2 linked regions of the Homo sapiens genome follow. The protein of the gene in region 1 interacts with the protein of each later gene in a biochemical or structural test. Each region holds a gene or a part of one and is shown in the gene's direction. Other genes may lie near its edges.

Region 1 (3,500 bases):
CGGGCACAAGCACTCTTTTTTGTGGAAGTCAAAGTGTTTTTAGAAGTTTTTCTCAATATAGCACTCCAGGGGGCCACTACCAGTCAGTTGGAGTTGGTATTCAAGGTGGAGTCTGGTTGCCGTCTCTGCCCTGTTCCCATTATGTAGTGAGTTCAGGTACTTAATACCTAACTGAGGACCCTAGGACTGCAGTTTGAGATCATCTGGGGCCAGGCACAGTGGCTCACACCTATAATGGTAGCACTTTGGGAGCCTGAGGCGGGAGGATCACTTGAGCCCAGGAGTTTAACAGTTTAAAATCAGCCTGGGCAACATGATGAGACATCGTTTCTACAAAAAAATTTTTTAAATTAGCTAGGCATTGTGATGTGCACCTGTGGTCCCTGCTACTTGGGAGCCTGAGGCAGGAGAATCGCTTGAACCTTGGAGGTTGTGGCTGCAGTGAGCCCTGATCGCACCACTACACCCCAGCCTGGGTAACAGAGCAAGACCCTGTCTCAAGGAAAAAAAAAATCATCTGGCCCATCCTGTTACTTAACAGAGAAGGTACCTGAGGCTCAAAAAGGATGACTGACAGTCCTAGTGGCAGAATGGAGGTGGGATCTGGAACCCACAACTTGATTCCTAGGACTCTTTTTTTTTTAATTCCCACATTGGCTGGGTGTGGTGGCTCACGCCTGTAATCCCAGCACTTTGGGAGGCTGAGGTGGGTGGATCACCTAAGGTCAGGAGTTCCAGACCAGCCTGACCAACATGGTGAAACCCCGTCTGTACTAAAAATACAAAAATTAGCCAGGCATGGTGGCCCATTTCCTGTAATCCCAGCTACTCAGGAGGCTGAGGCAGAATCGCTTGAACCTGGGAGGCGGAGGTTGCAGGGAGCTGAGATGGCGCCACTGCACTCCAGCCTGAGCGACAGAGTGAGACTCCGTCTCAAAAAAAAAAAAAAAATGCAAAAATTAGCCAGGCGTCGTGGCGCATGTCTGTAATCCCAGCTCCTCGAGAGGCTGAGTGGGGAGGATCACTTGAGCCCAGGAGGCAGAGGTTGCAATGACCTGCGATCATGCCACTGCACTCCAGCCTGGGCAACAGAGACTCTGTTTCAAAAAGAAAAAAAAAATCCCCACATTTTATTTAATTTTCAGTCCATACAGTTCTATTCCTGCTAGGGCTGTAACTCCAGCTGAAGGCACCACAGCTGTCACCCAAGGAGTTTCTGTGGCCATGGGAAGGTGTTGCATTCACTGCTACTTGAGACCACCACGTGACATTCCTGCAGGCTGTGCCCCTCACAGCCAGCTTCATCCTTTGGCTCCTCCTAGACCAGGACTTTGTCTTGCCTGCCTGCTGCCACTGCACTCTGTTCCGGCCACACCACACTGTGCAGTCCCCTGGTAGGACTTGGGCTAGGCTGGCTCTCCTGTCCAAGTGCCTTTTGCTCCCTTTGCTTATGTGTCTGTCTCTGCCCAGCTCCCACTGTGTCTGGTGCACACCCACCCTGACATCCTTTTTTATGCCTCAGCTGTGATCTAGATAGATGCTTACAGTAACTTCCCTGTATTAGTTATTCACTTGTACTTTCTGTTCACGTGTCTGCCTACAGGCTCCCACTTTTTGTCACTTTTTCTCTTTATACATTATGGAAGCTCAGTAATGATTAAATAGATGAATGATGTTTTAAAAATATATTTTAAAAAAGCAAAGGACTGGCTCTATCTCAGGGGTTCCTTCCATAAAGCGTCAACTTTCAATTTCCCCTGCGGGGGTGGTTTGAGACCTGAGGGCACTCTCTAGTTCTTAGGAAAAAAATATACATATACATATACATATATATATATATATACACACACACACACACACATATACACACATATATATACATATATATACACACATATATATATATACACACATATATATACACACATATATATACACATATGAGCCAGGCGCAGTGGCTCACGCCTGTAATCCCAGCACTTTGGGAGGCCAAAGTGGGCGGATCACAAGGTCAGGAGTTCAAGACCAGCCTGGCCTATATAGTGAAACCCTGTCTCTACTAAAAATACAAAAATTAGCTGGGTGTGATGGCTCGCATCTGTAATCCCAGCTACTTGGGAGGCTGAGGCATGAGAATCGCTTGAACCTGGGAGATGGAGGTTGCAGTGAGCCGAGATTGTGCCACTGTACTCTAGCCTGGGCAACAGAGTGAGACTCCATCTAAAAAATATATATATATGTTCACACCCACATCATTGAGTCCCCAGAGTGTCTTCTTACATATCTTTTTACAGGGGACTATTGTATGCCCTTCGTCTGACATCAGATGAAATTAATGTTGAGATCCTACTATGTGCTAGCACTTGATGGCCTTAATTAAAAATCAGGCATTTGAATTCCCAAGGACTCAGGCAAAGGTCCATGTATCATTAAGGCTGCAAGTAACAAAACCTAGGCTTAAAGAAGTGTAAATACTAGGGACACTTATTTATATTTATTTCTTTTATGTTTCAAGACAGAGTCTTGCTCTGGAGTGCAGTGGCACAATCACGGCTCACTGTACCCTCTACCTCCCAAGCTCAAGTGATCCTCCCACTTCAGTCTCCCAAGTAGCTGGGACTACAGGTGTGTGCCACCACACCCATCTAAGTTTTGTATTTTTTGTAGAGACGGGGTCTCTGTACGTTGCCCAGGCTGGTCTTGAACTCCTGGGCTCAGGTGATCTACCCGCCTTGACCTCCCAAAGTGCTAGGGATTACAGTCATGAGCCACCATGCCTGGCAGGGACACTTATTATCTCTGATAACAGGAAGTCTGAGGTTTGTTAATTTAGTGGCTCATTGTCAAATGGCGTAGAGCCTTTGCATCCTTCTGCTCTGTTCTTTTATGTTGGTTTTGTCTTCAAGCTTGTTCCCCTTATGAAAGCCTGGCTGCAGCCATTTTGAGCATCAATCCAGACGTGACAATATCTACAGGCAGGAGAAGGATCGCCTCCTGTGTGTCCTTTAAAGAACAAGGTGTTAACATGCCAGGAACTGTGGCTCCTGACTGTAATCCCAGTAATTTGGGAAGCCAAAGTAGGAGGATCGCCTGAGGCCAGGAGTTCCAGACCAGCCTGGGCAACATAGCAAGACCCTATCTCTATAAAATAAAATAATAAAAATTAAGAAAACAAGGTGTTAAAAGACAAAATTAAAGCAAATATAGTTTTGCAGATTGTAATTGACTTTTATTTGCAATTCTAGAATTGGGCTGCCCTCAGAACCAGGACAGGTTCAGAGAATTCCAGAGCTGCAACATAGTCTGAAAGCATTTATGGTCAGAAAACAGAAATGAGATACAAAGACAACTAATTGGTTACAGCTCTGCCTTTGCCTTATTTGAAAATGGTTTGAATAGTTGGCTGCCTGGAACCCACTGAAGCTGATGATGTGATTGGCTGAGCCTCAGCAATCTGTTACAAAAGTATACTCCTAAATTAGGTTTTCAGTTAGTTTGCA
Region 2 (3,500 bases), about 19 Mb from region 1:
GAGCCATGATTGCACCACTGGAATCCAGCCTGCCTGGGTGACAGAGAGAGACTTTGTCTCAAAAAACAAAAAACAAACAAACAAAAAGGCCAGACACGCTGGCTCACACCTGTAACCCCAGCACTTTGAGAGGCCAAGGCGGGGGGATCACCTCAGGTCAGGAGTTCAAGACCACCCTGACCAACATGGCAAAAGCCCATCTCTACTAAAAAATACAAAAATTACCTGGGCATGGTGGCCTGCACCTATAATCCCAGCTACTCAGGAGGCTGGGCCGGAGAATCTCTTGAACCCCGGAGGCAGAAGTTGCAGTGAGCCGAGATTGTGCCACTGCTCTCCAGCCTGGACACCAGAGTGAGACTCCATCTCAAAAAAAAAAAAAATTAAACTTTTAATTTTGACATAATTGTAGGTTTCCTTTAAAAAAGTTAACATGCTTGAGAGTTCCTAAAATATAATTTTGTCTTCAACCTTTCTCACCTAATATTATAAGAATTTTCTCACATATCAAAGTTTTTTCCTGTATATCATTTAACAGTTGGATAGCCTTATTACTAATCCAAAAAGTACACATTTATTATCTTCAGATGGGCAACATAAAAAAGCCTGATAATACTGGTGTTAGTGGGGACATGGAGAAAGTAGAAGTTGGTTTTTCTGTTTGTTTGTTTCATTTATTTTTTTTTTGAGACGGAGTCTCCCTGTTACCTGGGCCAGAGTGTAGTGGCGCGATCTTGGCTCACCGCAACCTCCACCTCCCGGATTCAAGCGATTCTCCTGCCTCAGCCTCCTGAGTAGCTGGGACTACAGGCGTGTGCCACCACGCCCGGCTAATTTTTTGTATTTTTAGTAGAGACGGGGTTTCACCATGTTAGCCAGGATGGTCTCGATCTCCTGACCTCTGGTGATCTGCCTGCCTCGGCCTCCCAAAGTGCTAGGATTACAGGTATGAGCCACCGCGCCCGGCCTGAGAAAATAGAAGTCTTATACAGTGCTGGTGGGAGTGCTGTTTTCACTTTTTTGTGTGTTTTAGTTTTTTTTTTTCTTTTTTCTTTAGAGATGGGGTGTCACTACATTGCTCAGGCTGGTCTTGAACTCCTGGACTCAAGTGATCCTCTTGCCTCAGCCTTCCAAAATGCTGGGATTACAGGCATGAGCCACCACTCCTGTTTCCACTTTGGAGAGCTATTGGCAATATCTATTAAAGTTGAAAATGAACATATGCTTTAGTTACATAAACTAAAGGGGGATTTTCAGAGATGTATGCCAAGGGACATGTATGGGGATAATTGAATATTATTTATAATAGTATAAAATGGAAACAATGTCCATACATAGAGTACTTAAATAAAATTCAGTGTATACATATAATGGAATATTATTCAAAGGTAAAGTAAAAATAAATGTCCGTCAACATGCCTCATTTTCAAAAATGCATTGAGTAAAAAAATGCAAGTTGCCAAAAGAAGTCTACGATATTTTATATTTTCTTTTATTTTTCATGAGCTATTTCAGGAACAGCAAAAAGAAGCCTACAATATACCTTTTATGTTTTAAAACAATACTATATATGTATATGCATACATCTATGCACGTGTGTTTGTTATGTATGTGTGCATACATATGTTCTATATATAATATTTAATATGAACACATTAACAGGAAGGAAACCAACAAATGCATGTGCTTGCCTCAGGGATAAGGGGAAGGTAGGAAGAAGGATGCACTACAGAGAAGTATAAAGAGGGCTTCTTTATCACTAACAGTTTACTCCCTTTATTAAAAATATAATACAGGCCAGGCGCAGTGGCTCACACCTGTAATCCCAGCACTTTGGGAGGCCGAGGCAGGTGGATCACCTGAGGTCTGGAGTTTGAGAGCAGCCTGACCAACATGGAGAAACCCTGTTTCTACTAAAAATACAAAATTAGCCGGGTGTGGTGGCACATGCCTGCAATCCCAGCTACTTGGGAGGCTGAGGCAGGAGAATCGCTTGAACTCGGGAGGCAGAGGTTACGGTGAGCCAAGATTGCGCCATTGCACTCCAGCCTGGGCAGCAAAAGAAAAACTCCATCTCAAAAAATAATAATAATAATAAATAAATATATATACACACACACATATATACATAATACAAGAAGATCTGAAATAAGTACACAAGATATTAACATTAATTCTGGGGAGTGAATGGGTCCATGGGTTTTGCTGTATTATTTTCCTTTTTTCAAAATTAAAATGAATTTTTAAAAAATACTAAGTCTAGTGATCCTTTGGGCAAGTTACTGAGGTGACTTTGAGAATCAGGCCTTCTAATCTGAAGTGTTTTTATTTCACAGGCTGAAGTTTCTCTTTGGCTCATCAGCCACCCAGGCCTTGGACCTAGTTGATCGACAGTCCATCACCTTAATCTCATCACCCAGTGGAAGGCGTGTTTACCAGGTAGAAGTCTAGAGATGGGGGTGATCCCTACAGAAACCCCTTAGGACAAAATGTTCTTCATCTCTGTAGAAGCTGTTGACTAGCTTTAAATATTTCCTGGACTGTTAAAAGGCTTTTGCCCCAACTTGGTAAAATTAACGAATTGATAATTTTTTAAAATTTTTATTTACTTTTAACTGACAGAAACTGTCTATATTCATGGTATATAACATGATGTTTTGATATATGGATACCTTGTAGAATAACTAAATCAAGCTAATTAACATATCTAATACCTTATATACTTCTTTTTTTGTGGTGAGATCACTTAAAATCCATTATCTTAGCAATCTTCAAATATACAGTACTTCAGTCTTTTTCTTGGTTTTTATAGAGACAGGGTCTCACTATGTTGCCCAGGCTGGTCTCAAACTCCTAGGTTCAAGCGATCCTCCCACCTTGGCCTCTCACAATATTGGGATTACAGGTATGAGCACCATCCCCGCCAATACTTTGTTATTAAATATATTCACCATGTTGTACCATAGATACCCTGAACTTATTTCTCCTAACTGAAATTTTGTACCCTTTGACCAATATCTCCTTATCTTCCTCTTCCTCCCCCACCCCAAGGCCCCTGGTAACCACTATTTCTTTTTCTATGAGTTCAACTTTTTTTTTTGTTTTAAATAAAGACAGGGTCTTGCTATGTTGCCCAAGCTGGTCTTGAACTCCTGGCCTCAAGCAGTCCTCCCCCTTCAGCCTCCCAAAGTGCTAGGATTACAGGCATGAGCCATTGCACCCAGCCTATGAGTTCAACTTTTTTTAGATTCCACATATAAGTGAGATCATGTGGTATTTGTCATTCTGTACCTGGCTTATTTCACTTAGCATAGTTTCACTTAACAAAATCCTCCAGAAATTTTTGTAACTAAAATAAGATGGCCAGGCGTGGTGGCTCACGCCTGTAATCCCAGCACTTTGGGAGGCCGAGGCAGGTGGATCACCTGAGGTCAGGAGTTCAAGACCAGCCTGGCCAACGTGGTGAAACCCCGTGTCTACTAAAAATACAAAAATTAGCT

What was found. Proteins that work in one complex are often made in the same cells at the same time.
Region 2: the proteins of RAD51D (region 1) and ZSWIM7 form a complex in vitro, tested with the Homo sapiens proteins (one study listed by BioGRID).

The regions. Positions count from the first base shown.
Region 1 is NC_000017.11:35,095,861-35,099,360, reverse strand, and holds part of RAD51D (DNA repair protein RAD51 homolog 4), read left to right. Parts: 3' UTR 1-3,500. UniProt on the Homo sapiens protein: Involved in the homologous recombination repair (HRR) pathway of double-stranded DNA breaks arising during DNA replication or induced by DNA-damaging agents. Bind to single-stranded DNA (ssDNA) and has DNA-dependent ATPase activity.
Region 2 is NC_000017.11:15,986,205-15,989,704, reverse strand, and holds part of ZSWIM7 (zinc finger SWIM domain-containing protein 7), read left to right. Parts: intron 1-2,336; coding exon 2,337-2,439; intron 2,440-3,500. UniProt on the Homo sapiens protein: Involved in early stages of the homologous recombination repair (HRR) pathway of double-stranded DNA breaks arising during DNA replication or induced by DNA-damaging agents. Required for meiotic progression, hence for fertility.